Linked DNA regions of Homo sapiens: region 1 is linked to region 2. The links come from fine-mapping of genetic effects on plasma protein levels. Region 2 holds a variant in brackets. A gene starts in the other region. All regions are shown on their reverse strands. Region 1 holds the start of PNMA1 (PNMA family member 1). Region 2 overlaps PARD3 (par-3 family cell polarity regulator).

What was found. PIP is the posterior inclusion probability: the model's chance that the variant is causal. Protein levels are from antibody-based Olink assays in UK Biobank. Linkage for the fine-mapping came from a reference panel and not from the study's own genotypes, which makes the PIPs less certain.
Region 1: PNMA1 starts here. The variant in region 2 is fine-mapped to the plasma level of the PNMA1 protein (UK Biobank, PIP 0.96).

What each region holds. Positions count from the first base shown.
Region 1 is chr14:73,711,844-73,717,222 of GRCh38, reverse strand. It overlaps PNMA1 (PNMA family member 1), which reads left to right and starts at 2,839. Exons shown (of 1, transcript NM_006029.5): 1 at 2,839-5,379. The coding sequence starts at 3,584. The coding sequence ends at 4,645. MIDEAS (mitotic deacetylase associated SANT domain protein) reads left to right here. Exons shown (of 13, transcript NM_001367710.1): 13 at 1-2,101. RefSeq lists enhancers at 2,374-2,443, 3,384-3,443 and silencers at 2,664-2,943, 3,124-3,293.
Region 2 is chr10:34,777,556-34,782,934 of GRCh38, reverse strand. The region is part of intron 1 of PARD3 (par-3 family cell polarity regulator); the gene reads left to right. Among named protein-coding and RNA genes, the nearest start is that of PARD3, 35 kb to the left of the region's middle. RefSeq lists enhancers at 1,554-1,613, 1,824-1,953, 3,088-3,588, 3,589-4,089. The variant T/C (reference allele first, on the strand shown) is at 3,049.

The sequences.
Region 1 (5,379 bases), not on the chromosome of region 2:
TAGGAAGGAGCCAGAAAGTATTCATACTGCTACTCCTTATGAGATAGCCAAGAAGCATCATGTCAGTAACTGGGAGTGGAGAGGGAGTTTTGTTTTGAAACTATGCAGGTATTTTTCAGCATCCATTTGTACATTAGTATGGTTCTACAGGACCCCAGCTGTGGAAGTAACAAATTTCTTCTCCCTCCAGACTCTTGGATGACTACCTAGATCCCCAGCTTACCGGTTAGTTTCCTCCACAGGCTTCCATGAGCTCAGTGTCCCAAGACAGCAAAAATCTGGTATACCCTGTAGAAGCAGGGGGGTAGCAAATTTAGGCTCTCTTCGAAATTACTTGTACAATACGAGTGCCTTCGCAGCTTAGCCCCAAAGTGCTACTTATGTTTCCCAAGGTCTTTTCTATTCAAATCATATTTGGTTTCAGGCCCCTTTATGGGCATACGGTAACAGAAACCTCCATCATTCATATGAGACCCTTTTGTCAGTGGTAACATCTTGTACTTGGAAAAAAAATTTTTTTTTTTTTTTTTTTTTTTTTTTGAGACAGAGTCTCATTCTGTCGCCCAGGCTGGAGTGCAGTGGTGTGATCTTGGCTCACTGCAACCTCCGCCTCTTGGGTTAAAAGAATTCTCCTGCCTCAGCCTCCTGAGTAGCTGGGATTATAGGCACACACCACCACACCCAGCTAATCTTTTTGTATTTTTTTTTTTAGTAGAGACAGGGTTTCGCCATGTCGGCCAGGCTGGTCTTGAACTCCTGACCTCAGGTGGTCCACCCGCCTCGGCCTCCCAAAGTGCTGGCATTACAGGCGTGAACCACCGTGCCTGGCCGGAAGTCTTTAAAAAATAAAGTGATTCTACTCTTCTAAGCTTACAGAGACCAGACCAGGTGAATGTAACTGGGGAAAATCAAGATGGTACCTCTCTGCATTATCCCGCCAGACACTGTATTTTATGCATTCATGTCTAGGATACAGTGTGAAAATTAAAAAGTTTAGAGGGCAGATGCAATTGTGGCAAGTGACCTGCCAATAAAGCAGGTGCAGCTATAGAAGCTGGCATAGGTATATCCTTAATGGTGCTTTCTCCCTGGGCTTGTCTTTTTGTTGTTTTTTTCCCCCTATATTCAGAGCTCCTTGAGAAGTGATAAACACCTCCAGCTTTCTAACATCCTCCCCACACCATCTCACCATATCCATCTCCCAGCATCCATCTGCATTCAGCTAAGGGCGGGAAACTGACCTAGTGCCTGTGTTGCAGACCATTTCTGAGGTCTCCACCATCCAAGGAGGCACAGCCGTCATTACTGTCCTCCATGCCTTCAGCAGCCCCCCTCACAGCTAAGGTACATACCACCCCTTCTGCCGCGCCTCCACCCCTGGCACCAAGGTCTTCTGCTGCTTATGTCTAAAGGGATCACCTATATTTAACTGCCTCAGTGACCTAACCTCTTTCTTCTCATGTGCCAGATGTTAAGATGAAGGAGGAATACAACACATACTCAAGCCTCAGCCTGTTTAGTTGTTTTCACTGGGGCTCGCTTTTCTGGGACGGTATTTATTATCAGACTGGCAAGCCTAACTCCATAGGTTTACAGGAAGTAGGGATATTTTTATAAAACAATTGTGTCCTCCCCACATTTTGCTATGTTAATATTTGCTTCTAACAATTTGCAGCTGTTTCACTTTTTCCTCATTTGTCTCTAAGTTGAAGGCTTTGTTGGAGGGGACAGAGCACAGGAACAGCCTTGACAGTCTGTAATTATTGTACAGATATTTTAATAGCATATAAATAAGTATATTCCTTTTATTTTGAAACAAAAATGATCAGACACTGCCTTTTGTGTGTTTGCTGCCTGTGGCATCCTTTTTTAAAAAGACTGTTACATATTAAAATAGTGTACATATATAAATATTACCTCTTTTGCTGTACAGTTGTGATAGAGACTGAAGATTTTATTTTTTGTGTGCTTTTTATAAGAAAAAAATTAATACACTAAAGAATCTTGCTGATGTGATTGTAATGTACCTATGTAACTTATTTACTTTTGAATGTTCTTCTGTATCTTTAAACCTTTTATTAAATAAGGTTTTAAAAATTCAGAGTTGAATGCTTTGTTCTCTTGGGATTTTCACCATCTGGGGTTGATGTAAGTGCGCCTTGTCTTGCTTGCAGGGAGATTACTCGACATTTTTGAACCATAAGGATTCTCTTTTAGCAGCCTATTGTCAATGATGCCAGCCAGGAAAAGGAAAATAATACACTAATGTTTGCCTGGCTAAAAGATGACTCAGTAGACACAGACAGATTTTTACAAAATTTTAGACAAGAAAAAGTCTAAACTCAGTGTCTCACACAAATACACAGAAATGGCGCACTCCGACATTTTGGCTTCATTGGGATGAAATATGCAGGGTGCACAGTGTGGTCAGGGGCAACGGGAAGCCAGGGTTCTGAGGAGAGTATTTTCACGTGCAGGGTGGACTGGCTGAGCAACCCGAGTAGACAAGTCCACCATGAGGGATGCATTTCCAACAATATCATCTTAAATCCACTCCAGGATTGGGTTATTATTTTTAAAACACGGTGCTTAGTAGTAGTTGTTTACTGTTAAAATGCTAAATTATGAAAAAGGAAATGCGCCATCAGAGAAACAAATGCCCGAGCCCCTCGCTGGCTCCACGGCAACCGCTCGACCCCCGCGAGCCGCCGGAGCAGGCGTGCCTCGCGCCGGCTGGGACACCGTTGCCATGGAGACGCCCGAGCAGCTCCGCCGCGGGGGCGGGACGGGGCGGGGCGGGGCGGACGCCGCTCGCCGGCTGGCCCCATCCTCCACTGCAGCAGTAACGTCGCGGCGGGTTGCGGGTAGGACTGGACGCCAGAGCAGCCGCGCAGCGCCTGAACCGCTGCGGGCCGCCGCGGCCGCCCCTTCCCACCCTCGCCTCTGCTGTCTCCAGCCTCGCTTCTCCGACTTTCCTGCTCCTCTGCTGCCTTCGTTTCTGGTCCTCGGCCGTCCTCGCCGCCCGCCCAGAGGAGTCCCCGCGCCCGCCAAGAAGCCGCTTTCCGCTGGCCCGCAGCCGCCGCGACTTCGGCACAGTTTCTCCCTCTGGCTAGTCTCCCAAACGGCCGCTCCTCGCCCGCGGGAAGACCAGGCTGCGACCGCGAACGCCCGATCCTCTCCAGGAGCCGCAGCGAGCGCCCGGCGGCCACGCCCCGCGACCACACCCCGGCGGCTCTCGGCCCAGCGCGCCTGCCTTCGCCGCCCGCCGTCGCTCCTCGCCCGCTGCACGACGACGCGACGCCCCTGCTGCAGGCGGCGGACCCGACCGGACCCAGACCCAGACGCAAGATGGCGACGGCCGCGTGACTGCCTCAGCGTCCCCGAGCTCGGCTCCGAGTGCACCTACGGACTGACTGTGGGGGCAGAGAAGGGCGAGATCAGGACTCTGTCTTTGTTAATCGTGACTGCATGAAGGTCGCCTCCCTCGGGCCTACTTGGTGGGAGTGTCTGGTATTGTTCTAAGGCCAGGAGCACGGTGAGCCACAGTCTGTTGGTAGAATTTGGCGTCTTGATAGTTGAGAAAATGGCGATGACACTGTTGGAAGACTGGTGCCGGGGGATGGATGTGAACTCCCAGAGAGCTCTGTTAGTCTGGGGCATCCCAGTGAACTGTGATGAGGCTGAAATCGAAGAGACCCTCCAGGCTGCGATGCCCCAGGTCTCCTACCGAATGCTTGGGAGAATGTTCTGGAGGGAAGAAAATGCGAAAGCAGCCTTATTAGAGCTCACTGGCGCTGTAGATTACGCCGCGATCCCCAGGGAGATGCCGGGCAAAGGAGGGGTCTGGAAAGTGTTATTTAAGCCCCCAACTTCTGATGCTGAATTTTTAGAAAGATTGCACCTCTTCCTAGCTAGAGAGGGGTGGACCGTGCAAGATGTTGCCCGTGTCCTTGGGTTTCAGAACCCTACTCCGACCCCGGGCCCAGAGATGCCAGCAGAGATGCTAAACTATATTTTGGATAATGTTATTCAGCCTCTTGTTGAGTCCATATGGTACAAGAGGCTGACACTTTTCTCGGGGAGGGACATCCCAGGGCCTGGAGAGGAAACCTTTGATCCCTGGCTGGAGCACACTAATGAGGTCCTAGAGGAGTGGCAGGTGTCCGATGTAGAAAAGAGGCGGCGGTTGATGGAGAGTCTTAGAGGCCCCGCCGCTGATGTTATTCGCATCCTTAAGTCCAACAACCCCGCGATAACCACTGCCGAATGCCTGAAGGCGCTTGAGCAGGTGTTTGGGAGCGTTGAGAGCTCTAGGGATGCCCAGATCAAATTTCTGAACACTTATCAGAACCCGGGAGAAAAATTGTCTGCTTATGTCATTCGTCTGGAGCCTCTGCTACAGAAGGTGGTAGAGAAGGGGGCCATTGATAAAGATAATGTGAACCAGGCCCGCCTAGAGCAGGTCATTGCCGGGGCCAACCACAGCGGGGCCATCCGAAGGCAGCTGTGGCTTACCGGGGCTGGGGAAGGGCCAGCCCCAAACCTCTTTCAGTTGCTGGTGCAGATCCGTGAGGAGGAAGCCAAGGAGGAGGAGGAGGAGGCTGAGGCCACCCTTCTGCAGTTAGGCCTGGAAGGGCACTTCTGAGTGCCAGGAAAGGCAGCTTTAGTGCAGACCTAGATCACAGCTACTTTTCTTGTCCCTGTGGGGTCTTACAGATGTGTCTCTGAGTAGTAAAGGCTTAGCCTTGTTCTGTTTTGTTGTTTTTTGGAGGGGAAGGTTAGTCAGGCCTGAGTATTCATGTAACATTCTAAAATTGTGCCAGCGAGCACCGTGAACGACTGCAATGCAAGCGGGTCTTGCTGGCTAAAATGCCAGGTAAAGGGTTGGTTGGACACAGCGCTTAGTGCACGCTGTCATCATGGACATCATAATCAGTTGTGAAAAACACGCGAACCTATGACACTTCTTATTCCACACTGAATGTGAAATTGCATGTTCAGATGTTTACTACGAGGCCTGGCTCACAGGAAGTGTTCAGTAAAAGTATGCACTGTTAGATTACTGATAACGCGGATAGATTTTTGTTTACCATAAATTGTTCCAGATTTATATTAATGGAAGGAAGTGTGCATTTATTAGCTATTACTCAACTTTACAATGCAAACATCTTATTTCTCATCTTTAAACATGTCGACCAGTTTAATTGAAAAGTATTCTGAGACTGCAAAATGGGGTGTTAAAAAATACTGCAGTTACGGAGCTGTGTAAACCAGTTTCTCATTGCATAAGATACAGATGTAAATTGCATGGAGAGGTTGATATGCACCTGTACAGTAATTCACTCCCCCATTTCACATCTTTGTCAGAGAATAGTTCTT
Region 2 (5,379 bases):
TGGCCAACATGGTGAAACCCGTTTCTACTAAAAATACAAAAATAACTGGGTGTAGTGGTGCATGCCTGTAATCCCAGCTACCTGGGAGGCTGGGGCAGGAGAATTGCTGGAACCCGGGAGGCAGAGGCTGCAGTGAGCCAAGATCACGCCACTACACTCTAGCCTGGGTGACAGAGCAAGACTCAGTCTCAAAAAAAAAAGAAAAAAAAAAAACTTTCCTAATGTTTGTATATTCTCACGTTAAGTCCTTCTTGGAATAAAGTTGGTGTAGAGTGGGGATGGGAGAAAAATTAATCTCCGTAAGTTGCTGGGGTAGAGGTAACAGTGTTTTATGTGTAGAGGAAATAATGTCTACTGTTAAGTCTTTCGATCAGCCAAAAGTGGAGTGGATAGTGCTTAAAATGTTTTGATGTCGTTGTGAGGATTAAAGTTATTTAAAAAGAATGGATGTGGAGTTGATTTTAACATTTTGGGATTAAGAAGGGTGGAGAGTTCTCACTGGAGGTTGTTTGATGTGCCCTAAGGCTGGTTGAGCACCTCTGGCTGCCTCTGAGCATGTTGCAGTCCCCTGTCAAGATTCCCTGGGTAACCTTTCTAAAATTTTGCTCCAGCGCCCAGTGGAGGAGGCTGGATTCTGCCTCTGCTGTCTTAGAACTTCAGTCTTTCCTTACAGGTATAGCTCTCTTCATACACACTGCTTGACTGCAATGTGTTCAGGTTACATGCTGTCCTTAAATCAGGCCTCCATAATTTCTTGGCAGCTTTCCTTTTGCAATCAAATTAGCACTTGGGTCTAGAAGCCAGTTAGGATGATTGGAAGAAAAAAATTACAGATGGTTAAAATTGGGTCAAAGTGCACTTCCTTACTCTGTTCTCTTTACAAGTTAAAAATATCTAAAAAATCATTGCAGCTGTGTCAGCATTTCTCAGTAGGTGCCAGATTTAGGTACTACCTTTCAGAATGTTTATGTACTGTGAAGGGGAAAATCCATTAATTATACAGTTCTGTTTGTCTAAAACGTTCAAGAACATTTCCACTGCCCTCTGCATGTTTGTGATTTTTGGGCCATTCAGTTCAGTCTGGATTATCCGATAGAGCACAGTGTTCTGTCATTGGTTCAGGCATTTGGCTGTCTTACCCCACAGAACTGTGTGTTCTAGGTCGGGGGCAATATTTTATATCTTTTACACTCTGTGTATAGTGCTGAGCATGTTACAGTTGGAAACTGTTAATTAATTTTTGTTCTATTTTCCTGCACTCAACTTTTCCTCCCAGAGGCCCCACCTGAATTTAAGAACAAATAAGTTATTATAAAGTCTTGTAGGAAAAGGCCTGGTATATTTAGAGAATCAGATCCAGCTGTCACCTACCATTCATACAGAACCATACTAACCTTTTCCTAAAAGTACCATCAGGCTGTTGGTTTTGTAAGTTTTCTTTCGTTCATTTTCCTTTTAAACCAAGCCTCATCTGTGAAAGGAGGCTGAAATCTGGCAGACCTCTTTATTATGCTCTATTTGTCCACATGTGGAAACCACCAGAAACCAGTAAAAAAGAATGGGAAGTGACCAAAGAGCAGACAGAAAATACCAGTTGCCCTAGGGAGCACCCAGCTCTTCCAAGGACTGCATGGGTCCTGGTCAGAGGGGCAAGTGAAATACCGCAGCTGCCTCCTGCAGAGGGGTATCTCTTTTACTTGTGAGCAGCGTCTGCAGCTGTGCAGGCTCTCAGCAGTGCTTAGTGTCAGCCATGTCCCTTGATTTATGCTCGTGTGAGCCTCTGCACATGTGGGTGCTCCAGCAGGCTAGAGGGGGGAGGGGTGCCCCAGGTCCCCAGAGGCACAGAGCTTTTTTTGGATACCGAGCCTGAGCTGAGAAGCGTGGGATGCAAGAGTGATGTCCTGCTCCAAGTTCAAGGAAAGTACAAAGTAAGCGGAAATGCATCCCTTCAAATAGAGGAAATCCCAAGTTGCTTTTATGTTTCCCGTTATAGCTGTGTGAAGTCATATCTTGAGGTTTAGCTTTCACGTTGAGTTTCAGCTGCTTTTTATGTGTGGCGTGGTGAATGTTAGTTTTCAGCATTTCCTTATTTCAGCGTATGTTGCCTCCGCACTGATTATTGTCCTTTGTTAGTTTAGAAGTCTTGTTTTATCCAGAGAAACAGAATAGGAAAATAACAGCAATTTTGAATGGCAGCTTCCCCTCCTTTTATGATAAAAAATACAGCTTCTGTAAAAAACTGCGGCAAGAGAAAAGAAAGGGCGTACTGTTGTCCCTGGGGATAAAATAGACAGGAGACCAAAGACTACATTTCTACTGAGCAGTGCTTTTATTAATGAATTCTGGTAGAGTTTTAACAGCAGGGCACGATTTCCTCCTATTGTGACTCCTGATGACCTCCAAGAAATAATTCCTGAATGTCACGCTCATAAGACATTTTTCTGATTATGGGCTTGTAATAATTAGATGTTTATCCCTAGAAAATATTGCCAACAAAAATTTATTAATAGTGCAAAGGAGGTGCTTATGCACCTTATTATGTAAATTGTTATTTTATATTCAACATCATTACAAACGTGTTTTGAGAGGGCTATTGAGATAGATCTCCAAGACATCTGCCGTAAACCAGTACTTGGACTTACAGCCAGTGCTCTCCACATCTCTATGGTAAGGAGCATTCAGGTCAGGAGGTAGAAATGGAAAACCAGGAAGGTATTTGGTGATTAGTTTGTGAAGTTAGTTGTGTCAAGAGCAAATTAATTTTTTTAATAAAATAAGTCTCAGCAATTTTAAAACCATTCATACAAAAGAAGCAGAGTTAAAATGGACTTCACAGTAGTTTCCATGGGGATTACCAGAAGGTGTAATGCATCTTCCGGGGAAAGAAGAAGATGGAGGGAAGTAGAATAGGATGGGGAATCGTAGAGAGTCACAGTTGATTTCAGGTGCCACTCGGTGGCATTACTGTCATTGTTTACTTCCGAGCATTTAGATCTACAGCTAGAAGGGACTCAGAGAAGACAGACCCAAGAAAATCACCAAGGAATT[T/C]GCCTGTGTATAGGACTTTGAAATGGACACGTCTCCTTGAAAGTGCCACGTTGGATGTCTCCAGGCATGGATCTTGTCTAGATGGCATTTGCAGTTTTGCATGCTTTGCTATTGAAATGTTCTAGCTAATGAATGTCTTCCACTGCCTGCCTGTGTGTGTCAGGTAATGCATCTTTCTTCACAGAAGGACTGAATTCAGAGGGTTTCTTGAAGAAAATTTAAAAGCTGGTGATATCTGCATAGTTGCTTTATTTTATTTTATTTTTGAGATGGAGTCACGCTGTGTCGCCCAGGCTGGAGTGCAGTGGCGTGATCTCGGCCCACTGCAAGCTCTGCCTCCCGGGTTCATGCCATTCTTCTGCCTCAGCCTCCCGAGTAGTTAGGACTACAGGAGCCCGCCACCATGCCTGGCTAATTTTTTTAATTTTTTTTTTATTTTTAGTGGAGACGGGGTTTCACCGTGTTAGCCAGGATGGTCTCGATCGCCTGATGTCGTGATCTGCTGGGCCTCGGCCTCCCAAAGTGCTGGGATTACAGGCGTGAGCCACCGCGCCCGGCTGCTTTATTTTATTTTATTTTTTGAGATGGAGTCTAGCTCTTTCACCCAGGCTGGAGTGCAGTGGCATGATCTTGGCTCACTGCAGCCTTCACCTCCCAGGTTCAAGCGATTCTCCTGCCTCAGCCTCCCGAGTACCTGGGATTACAGGTGTGCACCACCTGGCTAATTTTTGTATTTTTAGTAGAGACAGGGTTTCGCCATGTTGGCCAGGCTGGTCTTGAGCTCCTGACCCCAAGTGATCCGCCCACCTCGGCCTCCCAAAGTGCTGGGATTACAGGTATGAGTCACTGTGCCCAGCCTGCTTTAGTTTATTTGGATGGTGACTGTAACTTTAAACATATTAATACTGAACAACTAAATATACTATGTATGCTGAAGGATGCTAGATTTTTCTAAGTCAGAATCTGACAGCTTTCTCAGTTAGCTGCTGTTTGTCAGTCCTTTGTGAACAAAAATACTGGTCTACCTCATGTTAAGGAAACGATAGGTGAAATGAGATTTATTTAATCATACCAGGTATTTTAAACAGCCAGCTCTTTTTTTTGGCAAGCTCTTAATGTTATTAAAAACATAATTTGTCACTTAAGTCTTTTCAGCATACATATAGTTTCTTAGTCATGTAATTCATAAAATAGAATTTAGAGTTGAAAGGAACCTAAGAGGTCCCTTCTAAATGTGTAGATCTTCTGAACAGTGTAGAAATTTTCCTCCACCATGTCTCTGCTGGAGGATATTGTCTGTGGCCATGCACTTGGCACCTTTCAAGGCAGCCAATTCTAGGGAATAACATTTCTTATTGGAAAATGCTCTGTTGGCCTGATTGTTGCTGCATTTTCCCCCTTGTTAATTCATGTTTGCCATTTAGCAACACAAACGAAGTCTGTTCCCCTTCATTCATGATGCTCAGTTCTTAAAGCTGAGAACATGATGGTTAAGGCAGCACAGTGAAATTGCCAACTACTTGCCAAACAAGTGGATTTGAACCAGCCTTTGCCTCATTTCTGTCCTTGGCCCGAGGGATTTAGAATCCAGCAGACCGCAACCTTCCTCCCTATTTCCCCTGTCCATTTACAGATGAATACCTGGAGATACCACAAGCTTAAATGTCTTGCCTAAAGCCACACACATTGGCTTGGAGCTTAGTGAGTTTGTATTAGGTACTATAAGTGATTTAGAGCTGATTTAGAGTATACAAGAGGTTATATGCAAATGCTGCGCCATTTCATGTCAGGGAGTTAAGCATCCTTGGATTTTGGTATCCACAGGGATCCTGTAACTAATCCATTACGGATATGGAGGGACAGTGGTACCTCTGAAGGCTGCTGGAGGATAAAGCTCTAACTCAAGAGCCGTGGATGTGGTGGTAACTTGGCAGCAGTCTCTTTCCCAAAGGCCTCCTTGCGGGAGGGAGGGCAGTGCTCATCTTAATTTTCTGGTCTCTTTCCTAGACTCACCATCATTCCTCAGGGAATCAGTTGATTAATTAACAAATGCTTGGCTGGGTGAGGTGGCTCACACCTGTAATCCCAACACTTTGAGAGGCTGAGACAGGAGGATCATTTGAGCCCAGGAGTTCAAGACCAGCCTGGGAAACAAAGCAAAACCCCCATCTCTTAAAAAAAAAAAAAAATTAGCTGACTGTTGTAGTGCATGCCTGTAGTTCCAGCTACTCAGGAGGCTGAGGTGGGAGGATTGCTTGAGCTTGAGAGTTTGAGGCTGCAGCGATTGCACCACTGTATTCCAGCCTGGGTGACAGAGTGAGACCCTGTCTC